Linked DNA regions of Homo sapiens: region 2 is linked to region 1. Evidence: fine-mapped expression QTL. A gene starts in region 1. The other region holds a variant in brackets. All regions are shown on one strand. Distances are from middle to middle. Region 1 holds the start of CALN1 (calneuron 1). Region 2 overlaps CALN1 (calneuron 1).

Evidence for each region. PIP is the estimated chance that this variant, and not a neighbour inherited with it, causes the effect.
Region 2: its variant is the best candidate, but not a certain one, in a credible set for the expression of CALN1 in nucleus accumbens (GTEx, PIP 0.66).

What each region holds. Positions count from the first base shown.
Region 1 is chr7:72,409,669-72,415,046 of GRCh38, forward strand. It overlaps CALN1 (calneuron 1), which reads right to left and starts at 2,670. Exons shown (of 7, transcript NM_031468.4): 1 at 2,390-2,670.
Region 2 is chr7:72,136,886-72,142,263 of GRCh38, forward strand. All of the region lies in intron 3 of CALN1 (calneuron 1), which reads right to left. Among named protein-coding and RNA genes, the nearest start is that of CALN1, 270 kb to the right of the region's middle. The variant A/G (reference allele first, on the strand shown) is at 3,293.

The DNA of each region.
Region 1 (5,378 bases):
AATGGAGAGGGATGAACCTGCATTGTTTATGGGCATAAATAATTCATAAGCATGGGTTAAATGGTTTTTAGCCTCTGGGACCCCATGGAACAGTGGTTCCCAGGCTGTTACTCGAAGACCCAATTCAAAGAATCACCAAGGAACGTTCCCTCCCTTTTAACCACGTTGGGCATCAAGTTACAGTCTTTTCTTTTGCATCTTGTGGTCTCTGCTAGATTTTACAATTGTTGAGGGCCACATTATAATCAGTTTTTTCCCTGTAATGCTTGATAATGGTTTTCCCCTTGGTCCTTTCCTCTAAAACCCTGCAAAGATGCACCACATTTAACCCACAAAAAGAATTTATTTTTGTTATAACTGAACATAATTCTTTCTTGAAGATATCTTTTGGACAAAATGTTCCATTGTGCGGGTCATGCCATATGGTGTGTAATGGGGTACGAGTTGCTGACAAAAAAGACGACAGGGCAGAGTGTGAGCTCCAGCCTGCCCCAAAGCTAAGCCCTGCATTTGCTGGAACATGAGAGCCTGGAGCTCTTAAATATGTAAGAGAGGTTGTCAAATCTACTTAACTGCTTATGAGCAATGAAGTCTCATCACTGCACTTGTGTTACTGACTCTGCAAAGGTGATTGTTGGCCATCATTTTGAATATCTTACTACTAAGATGTATTCAAAAGCACAAAAAAGAAATCTAAAACTGCCAATCTAGGACGTAGAAAATGTCCATGGAATTCCTTGAAAGATGCAAAAGCGAAATCCTTCTACATGATGTAAAATCAAAGTTGTTTTCTCCCTATCTCTGCCCAAAACCAATTAGATATCACGGAAATAAAATATATACACAAGCAAAGCCAAAATTTTAAGTCCACATCTGAAAACTGAAATGAGCTTTTCAAATCAGCTCAATTCTTCTGCAAGTGAGACTTCTCAGGAGCCCTAATGTCCCTTCATGTCCTGGCTTAAATTCGCATAAGCAAAACACCCTAAACCCTGGTTCTTCAAAATGAAAACCAAGACCCTATGAACGGCTCACAATTAAATTAACATTGAAAATCAGAGTAAAATAGGGAACTATATATATTTCCTGAACATAAATACACACACCTCCGTATCAGCTCACGAGCCAGCACCCTACCTTCTTACTTTCCAAGAAGCACTAGAAACTTTATTGCTAAAATCAGAAAAAATACAAGGATGTTTACTATCTCTGCTACTATTAACACTGTATTGTAGGCATTAACCAACATGATTAGACAATTAGAGGCATAAGATGGGAAAAGAAATAAAGTTATTTTAAGGTGATATGATTATATGTATGGAAAATCCCAAAGAATTCATGAAAAAACGATTACAAATAATAGGTGAATTTAGTAAAGCATTAGAATAAGACCAACATACAGAATTTAACAGGACATGTGTAGAAACAGAAGATAATGTATGAGCAGAGCCTATTTATAAGAGCAAACATAAAGGTTTTACAGATTTGAAAAAAACTATCAAAAGGAAAAAGCAAAGCAATTCCTTAAAATAGAAAATGAACTGAAACATGCAAACACAACTGTATTTCAAGTTAATGGCTTAACTACAGAGAAAACCGTTTTTTTCAAGTTACTTTAGAACATAATATTTTGACTGAGCTTTCCACGTGAGACCTAAGTCTCAGGACAAAAAGAACCACAAAGAAATCATACAAAAGAGATTCATGTAACATCATTAGGAATCAAGATTTTCTATGTTAGAGAAAAGAGCTGTAAATATAACAATTTTAAGGTTAAGTAAAAACTCTGAAATCTAGTTTGAATAAAAATATCACTGTGAACTCAATTTATTTTTGTCTTTAAAAAAATATGGACGTATCAGTTGTGTCACTGAAAAGACGTCAAGGTAATAAAACTCAGGCAATGAGCACTCAAATTGTAGTCTCAAAATACCACTTCCGGCTAAGTAATCAGCTCCATGGGAGGAAATACGAAAAGTCTTGTCAGGCCTAAAAGTGGATAAGTTCTCAATGATGCCAAATGACAGAGAAACTAACTGGAAGACACAGCCAATCACCAAATATGGTACAACTCATTATCCTGAAAATTGACATGAATGTAATTGCTAAGGAATAAAGTAATTACTCTTTTAAAGTAATAAGAAAAGAACCAAACAATTGTCCTGCTTTTTCCATACAGATTATATTCCAGGATAACCAAATAGTTGATGAAGCAACTCTCTTTTAGAGAGGTATCATAAACCGATAAAGAAAAAATCATAGATTAAAACACCACCATAATCCGGAACTTGTCTCCAGACTATGAAAGTACCCAGATGGCTCCCAAACCTGGCCCAGCTGGGAACTGCATGCAGCTGAGCCCACCATGCTCTTTAGTTTCTGTGCCCACCTGTGTGCGGAATTTATTCCTTCTGCTGGGTTGTTGGTCTCGCCGACTTTAAGAATAAAACCACGGACCTCGCGGTGAGTGTTACAGCTCTTAAAGATGGCGCGTCCGGAGTCGTCTGCTCCTCCCGGTGGGCTTGCGGTCTTGCTGACTTCAAGAACGAAGACGCAGACCGCGGCCGTGAGCTTTAAAGGTGGCGCGGACCCAGAGTAAGCAGTAAGCTTTATTAAGAAGCAGGAAAGAAAAAAACACAAACTCAAGCGGATAGCACCCCAGCGAGCTTCCCCAGCGGGCTCGGGGAGCCAGCTTTTATTCTCTTATTCAGCCCTGCCCATGTCCTGCTGATTGGTCCATTTTACAGAGTGCTGATTGGTCCATTTTACAGAGTGCTGATTGGTCCATTTTACAGAGTGCTGATTGGTCCATTTTTACAGAATGCTGACTGGTGCATTTACAATCCTCTAGCTAGACACAGAGCACCGATTGGTGCATTTACAATCCTCTAGCTAGACAGAAAAGTTCTCCAAGTCCCCACTGACCCAGAAGCCCAGCTGGCTTCACCTCTCACACCCAGGGGCCACTGCTGGAGGAGCAGCCCCAGCCCTTGTCCCCTCACCCTTCCCCCATGGAACCTGCTTTGGGAAAAACAAACTGGAACAATAAAAATGCCCCACATTCCAAATCAAGCCCTTGTCAAAGTCCCTTGCTTTCAGCCCAGGAAGTTTCTAGAAGCAGTCAAGCCACAGGACAGAGAAATATCTGGTGGCCCAGCTCTCCCTGGAGAATCCATCTCCCACCTCCAAAAGGAAGCACCCAGACCATGGAGGCCACAGCCCCAGGCCTGGCTTTCCTGGTAGGATAATATTTAGGGTTACCCTCTTTCTCCTGGGGCAGCTGGTCTAGCTCCGAGAAGGTTCTCTGATGGCTGTGCTGGCTCACGCTAAGCCCACCTGGAGTAGGCCAGTGGCTGGTGGCCACCTTCAGACCTGGGCTCACCCGGGGGGTTTGCACTGATGGACGCCCTGGCAGAGATCACAGAGGCAGGTTCTGTTAGACACATATGCACACATACACTCTTACACGTATGCTCACTTACATGCTTACACATACACTCATATGTACACACTGACACTTGTGCCCACCCACTCACACACACACACTCATACACACATATACACTCACACACACCACACATACACACATATACATTCACACACACATGCACACACACACCACATGTACACACACACGTATACATACACACACTAACATACACTCACATCCACACATACATTTACATACACTCATCCACACACACCCACGAACATACTCATACATGCACACCACACATGCACATTCTTACACACACGTACACTCACATAGACTCACATACCACACATGGACACACGTGCATACTCATACCACACATGCTCACATAAGGACACAAACTCACACATCAGATACACTCATAAACACGCACACTCACAAGCTCATACATGCATGCACTCATGCACACCACACACACACTCATACATATACACACTAACACATGCACACATACATATATACACTCTCACTACACATACGCATATAAACTCACAGTTATGCACACACTCATACACATATACATTCACACTCACACTACACATACACATATACACTTACACTTATACACACACGCACAGCACATATGCACACACATACACATAACAAACACACTACACAGACACGCACCACTCGCAAACATTCCCACTTATGCATTCACATGCATGGCACATACACAAACATGCACACACATCACACACACTCGTATACACATGCACACACACACTCTTACATACATACACACGTACACACCGCACTCCCATACATGCACCCTCACATATACTCCCCCTTCCTTCTGTTTCCATGATGTCTGCTGTCTCCAAGGCTTTCTGTTTTTGAGTCCCCTGCTACAATTAAAATACTCCTGAGAGCAATTAAGCTTTGGCAGCTAATAACTTAATTACCCACTAATACCGTATCTTCCCATCACCCTCGCCAAGCAGGAGCAGTGAGGTATGAGACGGATTCACTCATTGGAGGCAGACCGTGGGAAGATCCAGGATCCTAGAGTTTGGCGGGAAGCTCAAGAGACCCATGCTGGAGCCAGAGGCCCATGGGCCTCCTTGAGTCCTGGGGCCGAATCCTTCGTTCTGTGCACCTACTACAGAGCAGTGTCCTTAACCAGGGCTTAAAATTATCTACCAACATGAAGAGTGACCTACAAAAGAAACTGACCTGATCAACCCCTAGTTCACAATTGGGTAGAGCGAGACAGAGAGGCTGAGTGGCTTCCCAGGGTCACACAGCTTCTCTTGCAGGCCAGTGCCTTCTTGATGCCAGACCAGGGGTCCTGGGATGGGTGGTGGCAAGACCCTCACACCAGCCTCCCTGAACTCACTCCCCACTCCACCCTAACACTAGCATGGCAGCACAGAACTTCCCAGAGACGTTACAGAACAGCAGAGATTGGAAGTCCAGTGTTGGCCCCCAGTCTGGATAATTCAAGCAAATGTTTGAAGGGAGGATGTCCTGAATTTGCCATAAGCTGTATTTCTCCCAGGACGACTGAGAAGCAGTATCTGTAGATGGGGGAACATGAGCTCTGTACCCCTCTCTGTTGCCAAGTTCATCCATTTCATGGCAATGGTTTCCTTCCATTTTTGTGACATGCTTGGATGGCCCAAGACTCCACTGGTCATTTAATTTCCCTTCCCAGCCCCCAAATATATATCCTGAATTCCACATATGCTATGGAGTGAATTGTGTCCCTCCTCCAAATCCTTACGTTGAAGCCCTCAACCCCAATGTGACTATATCTGAAGATAGGGGTTTGGGGAGGTCATTTTAAATGAGGTTTTAAGGGTGAAACCCTAATCCAATTGGACTGTGGCTTTATAAGAGGAAGAGAGGGATCTCTATCTCTGCCATGTGAGGACACAGCAAGAAG
Region 2 (5,378 bases), 270 kb before region 1:
ATATAGATGTAGTTTGTGGCCTCAAAAAAATCACAATAGTAACATCAAAGATCACTGATCACGATGTAAGAATTAAAGAAAGAGGAAAGAAACATGAAATGTGGCTCAACAGTTAAGGACAGGTTTATTTTAGAGAAAACAAACCTGAGAGGGGCTTCTGGCCAAGTTAGGTCAGAGAGCCCTTCTCTCTTACACACTAAGTATATTTAAGGGTTTTGGAAAGGGGGGCTTGTCATAGGTTTGGAATGTTTCTATGTGAAGGAAAGTTTATTGCAGGGTTGGAGTGTCTCTGGTCGGAGGGGAGCCTATCTCAGGGTTGGTATGTTTCTGGTCAGAGAGGGGTTTATCTTAGGGTTGGGATGTTTCTAGTTATGCTGACATTAGCCATTAGGCTGATGTTTTGGGGCTGGATTTAGGTGGTTTTTAAAGAGAACTTACAACGGTGGTGTTTTGTTCAAGATGGCGATGCTCCTGCTCTGTCACACAGATCATCCTAACAGATATAATAATGAAAGCAAATAATGAAAAAGATTGAAATATTTGTTGGAATCACCAAAATGTGACCCAGAGGCACGAAGTGAGCACATGCTCTTAGAAAAATGATACTGACAGACTTGCCCAACCACAGGGTTGCCACAAACCTTTAATTTGTAAAAAACAAACAAACAAAACAAAACAAAAAAACACAGTATCTGCAAGGTGCAATAAAGTGAAGTATAAAATGTGGTATGCCAGTATGATCCTGGATTGAATGATTTAGCTGTAAAAGAAATTATTTGGATAACTGGGGAAATTTGAATAGAGTCTGTGGATTAGGTGGTGGTATATGATGTTAAGTTTTCTTATTCTGATGGTTATAGTATGCTTATGCTGTAGCGTCTTTGTGAAAAATATACTCTAGCATATTCAACAGTGGAGGACATCACGCCTGCTGCTTACTGTAAAAAAGTTTAGAAAAAGAACAAATTTTAGTATAAATGATATAAATATAGCATATCTATTTGAGAGAGAGAGAGAATGATACGGAAATGTGCTCCAATGTCTACAATCAGGAAATCTGGGTGAAAGACATATAGGATTTCTTTGTACTGTTCATGCAACTTTCTGCTATTTTTGAAATTATTTAAAGTAAAATAGTAAAATGAAAATAGACTATGGGATGGCAACTTAATTATATCCATGTGGTGAAATATTACACACATTCAAAAACCACATTTAGTAAATGACATGAGCAAATATGTTTTCTTAAGAAATCAGTATATAAAACTATATGTGTAATATGGCTTAACCTGTCAAAACATGTGCCTAAGGGAAAAAGACATAAAGGAAATATATGACATGTAAAGATGGAATTATCATCAAATGATGCTAATTCTAGATGATCATGTATTTTTATTTTGGATTTTTTTTTTTAAACGTCTCCAGGTGTCTGGCTCTTTTAAGAAGAACAAAATGTTATTCTACAAAATGAAACCAACAATGAGTAAACTGGAGGCTCGAATACAAGTGTTCTCTCCATGCTGGGGAGCATTTTCCCGACGCCATCTGAAGCCTCAGAGTAGAAATCTTGTTTCACAAAATTCAAAGCTTCTGTTCTTACACCTGATTCCTCGGGAAACTCTTTTCTCCTACTTGTATTAACCAATTCAGCTGTGAGGAGCAAAGGAGACGGGGACTGCCCTTAGCTGGGCTCTGAAGGTGCGTATTTTAGCACCGGCTGAGAACTGAGTTAGCTAATCTTCAAAGAGGCTGCCTGCCATCCCATTCAACAACATAAAAAGCAATTTGTTTACGGGAAGAAAAGCCATTTCAACATGAAAATTGGTTTCACGACAATATGCCTGATAAAACAGCACATGAAAGAACCATTGGTCGGCCTCTCTCCCCTGGGTCCCCCCACAATCCCCGCCCTTACCCTTTCTTTCAGAACTGTCACCATAATGGAAAAGGAAGTTATCTCAATGGAAAAACATGCTGGAACACATTTTACCTCTGGAGTAATGGGCCAGGACTGCCCACACATTCAATGAAAAACAAAATATTTGGTCATTCTGCTCCTTCTACCCGAACGCATTCGAAAGCTTGCAATGCCATCATCTAGCGTTCAATCTCAAAAATTCATCCTTGACTCCTTCCCTTCTTGTTGATGGTACCTCCAGCATCCAGAGTGGTGTGTCAAAGACATCACGTCTAATCACGCTTTGCTTCAGCTTCAAATTTCTCACTGGCTCCCATTCACTCATATATTCAACAAGCAGGTTGCTATTCCACACCAGGCCAGAGCCCATGGGCATCCGGCAAGGTCACATCCATCCCCTCTTTGATGTCCCAGGCGCTTCCAGAACTGGGCCATGTACACCTTCTTCTAAGCACCTCAGCCCCATGCCTACCATCTTCTAAGCACCTCGGCCACACCCACCCTCTTCTACCCACCTCAGCCACGCCCAACCTCTTCTGCCCACCTCCACCATGCCCACCCTGGGTCTTCTACTCATCTCAGCCACGCCCACCCTCTTCTAAGCACCTCAGCCACGCCCACCCTCTTCTACCCACCTCAGCCACGCCCACCCTCTTCTACCAACTTCAGCCACACCCACCCCTCTTCTACCCACCTCAGCCATGCCCACCCTCTTCTAAGCACCTTGGCCATGTCCACCCCCTCAGCCATGCCCACCCTCCTCTACCCACATCGGCCACACCCCTTTCTAAGCACCTCAGTCAAGTCTACCCTCTTCTAAGCCTCTCATCCATGCCCACCTTCTTCTAAGCACCTCGGCCATGTCCACCCTCTTCTAAGCTCCTCAGCCATGTCCATCCTCTTCTAAGCTCCTCGGTCACCTCCACCCTCTAGGAACCTCAGTGCTCTGCCCCTCCTTAACCCACCCTACAGAGCTGATGGCTGTATTTGGAGCAGGCCTTCACTTTCAGGACTATATACTATGTTGCTACTTCCCTTATCTCTCTTTGCAAATGACAAACACCTATTTATTCTTTCAGATTTACTGAGTCAGGTCTCCTACTAAGCCCTCTTTAGGAAGAGGGAGAAGAGGCCCCTCTCCTCTGTAATCTCGTTGGAATATTTCACCACTGTTGGGGGAGGTTAGGAAAGCATGCTCAGAAGTGTCCTGTAATCTCAGCAATTCGGGAGACTGAGGTGGGAGGATTGCTTCAGGCCAGGAGTTTGAAACCAGCCTGGGCAACAAAGTAACACCCTGTCTCTGCAATAAATTTAAAAATTAGCTGGGAGTGGTGCTGAACACTTACAGTCCCAGCTACTAGGGAGACTGAGGCA[A/G]GAGGATCACTTGAGCCCAGGAGTTCAAGGCTGCAGTGAGTCATGATTGCACAACTTCACTCCAGCCTGGGTGACAGAGTGAGACCTTGTCTCAAAATAAGAGAGAGAGAGAGAGAGAGAGAGAGAGAAGAAAGAGAGGAACAGAGAAAGGGAGAAGGAAGGAAGGGAGGGAGGGAGGGAGGGAGGGAGGGAGGGAGGGAGGGAGGATGGAAGAAGCGAATGAAGGAAGCAAGCAGCCAGAACCAGAGTCCCACCTCCTTCTGCTGCTCCTGTGGACCTGCCCAGACAATTTTAGCACACGCAGCTCTACAGTGAGACCCACTCAGAGGAAATCTTGCTGAAAGTATTTCCCTCTCCCTCCTATCAAAGGAAGACAAGGGCAGAAGCCCCCTCAGGGATTACACCCCAACCTTGGCAGGCAGGGTGTGGCCAGTCTGGGCCTATGTGGCCTATGTCTGTTGAATGGTAGGATAAATGAATGAACAGAGGCAACCCTGGTTGGCTCTTGAGTGGTGTGAGCTGGTCCTGTACCCAGATACTGGGGTGGCCTTGGCAGGGCCCTGGAACCAAATGAGTGTTCAAGACAACCTCCTATCGGAGCTCATCAACTTCCAGGACAGGAGAGAATGTGTCACTGCCTCTCTCATGCACAGTCCTGGGGGAAAGCTGGCAAGTACATCAGGGCTGCCTGCCTGTCCAGCCCAGGGCGCTGGGGCCTTGCTCTGCAGTCCTGTGGCAGCTGGTTCCCCACCTGGGAGGAGGAAGACAGCCCCATTGTGAATGTCTCTAAAACAAAAGGTAGAAGATACTAGCCTCCTAGTGTGGACCATGGCAGACTCAAGCTATAGCAACTCCATGGGCTAAGCATGAACTGGTGCTGTGCTGTCCCTCAACCCAAGGCCAAGGTCACTGGCTCCAGCCTCTCTGCGTCCTGAGAAAAGTAGCAACAATTATCCAATAGAAAAATTAATCTCACTGGATGCGGTAGCTCATACCTGTAATTCCAGAAATTTGGGAGGCTGAGGTGGGAGCATCACTTGAGCCCAGGAGGTTGCAGTGAGCCATGATTGCACCACTGTACTCCAGCCTAAGTGACAGGGCATGATCCTGTCTTAAAAAAAGAAAAGAAAAAGAAAAAAAGGCCAGGTGCAGTGGCTCACACCTGCAATCCTAGCACTTTGGGAGGCTGAAGCAAGTGGATCACCTGAGGTCAAGAGTTCGAGACCAGCCCTGGCAACATGGTGAAACCCAGTCTGTACTAAAAATACAAAAATTACCTGGGTGTGATGGCACTTTGAGACCACCGACCCTTCGGCTAGGCCTATGCACGTGTCCCAAAACAACCTTTTGTGTCCGAGGGCTCAAAACTCCACCCTCAGATGATGCTAACATCACCATTTTTTTTTTCAAGACGGAGTTTCCATCTTGTCAATCAGGTAGGAATGCAATGGTGTGATCTCAGATCACTGCAACCTCCGTCTCCTGGGTTCAAGCGATTCTCCTGCTTCAGCCTCCTGAGGAGCTAGGATTACAGGCATGCATCACCATGCCTGGCTAATTTTTGTATTTTTAGTAGAGACAGGGTTTCACCATGTTGGTCAGGCTGGTCTCCAACTCCTGACCTCAGGTGATCCTCCCATCTTGGCCTCCCAAAGTGCTGGGATTACAGGTGTGAGTCACTGTGCCGGGCCAACATCACCACTTTCTACAGATGGGCCCTATGTCAAAACATGAGGCTTGATTACACCTGCACAGTGATCTGTTTTGGATGCTTGTCCCCTCCACATTTCAGGTTGAAATATGATCTGCAGGGGTGGTTCCAAGATGGCCGAATAGGAACAGCTCCAGTCTACAGCTCCCAGCGTGAGCGACGCAGAAGACAGGTGATTTCTGCATTTCCAACTGAGGTACCGGGTTCATCTCACTGGGGATTGTCAGACAGTGGGTGCAGGACAGTGGGTGCAGTGCACCAAGCATGAGCCGAAGCAGGGTGAGGCATCGCCTGACCTGGGAAGCACAAGGGGTCAGGGAATTCCCCTTCCTAGCCAAGGGAAGAAGGGACAAATGGCACCTGGAAAATCGGGTC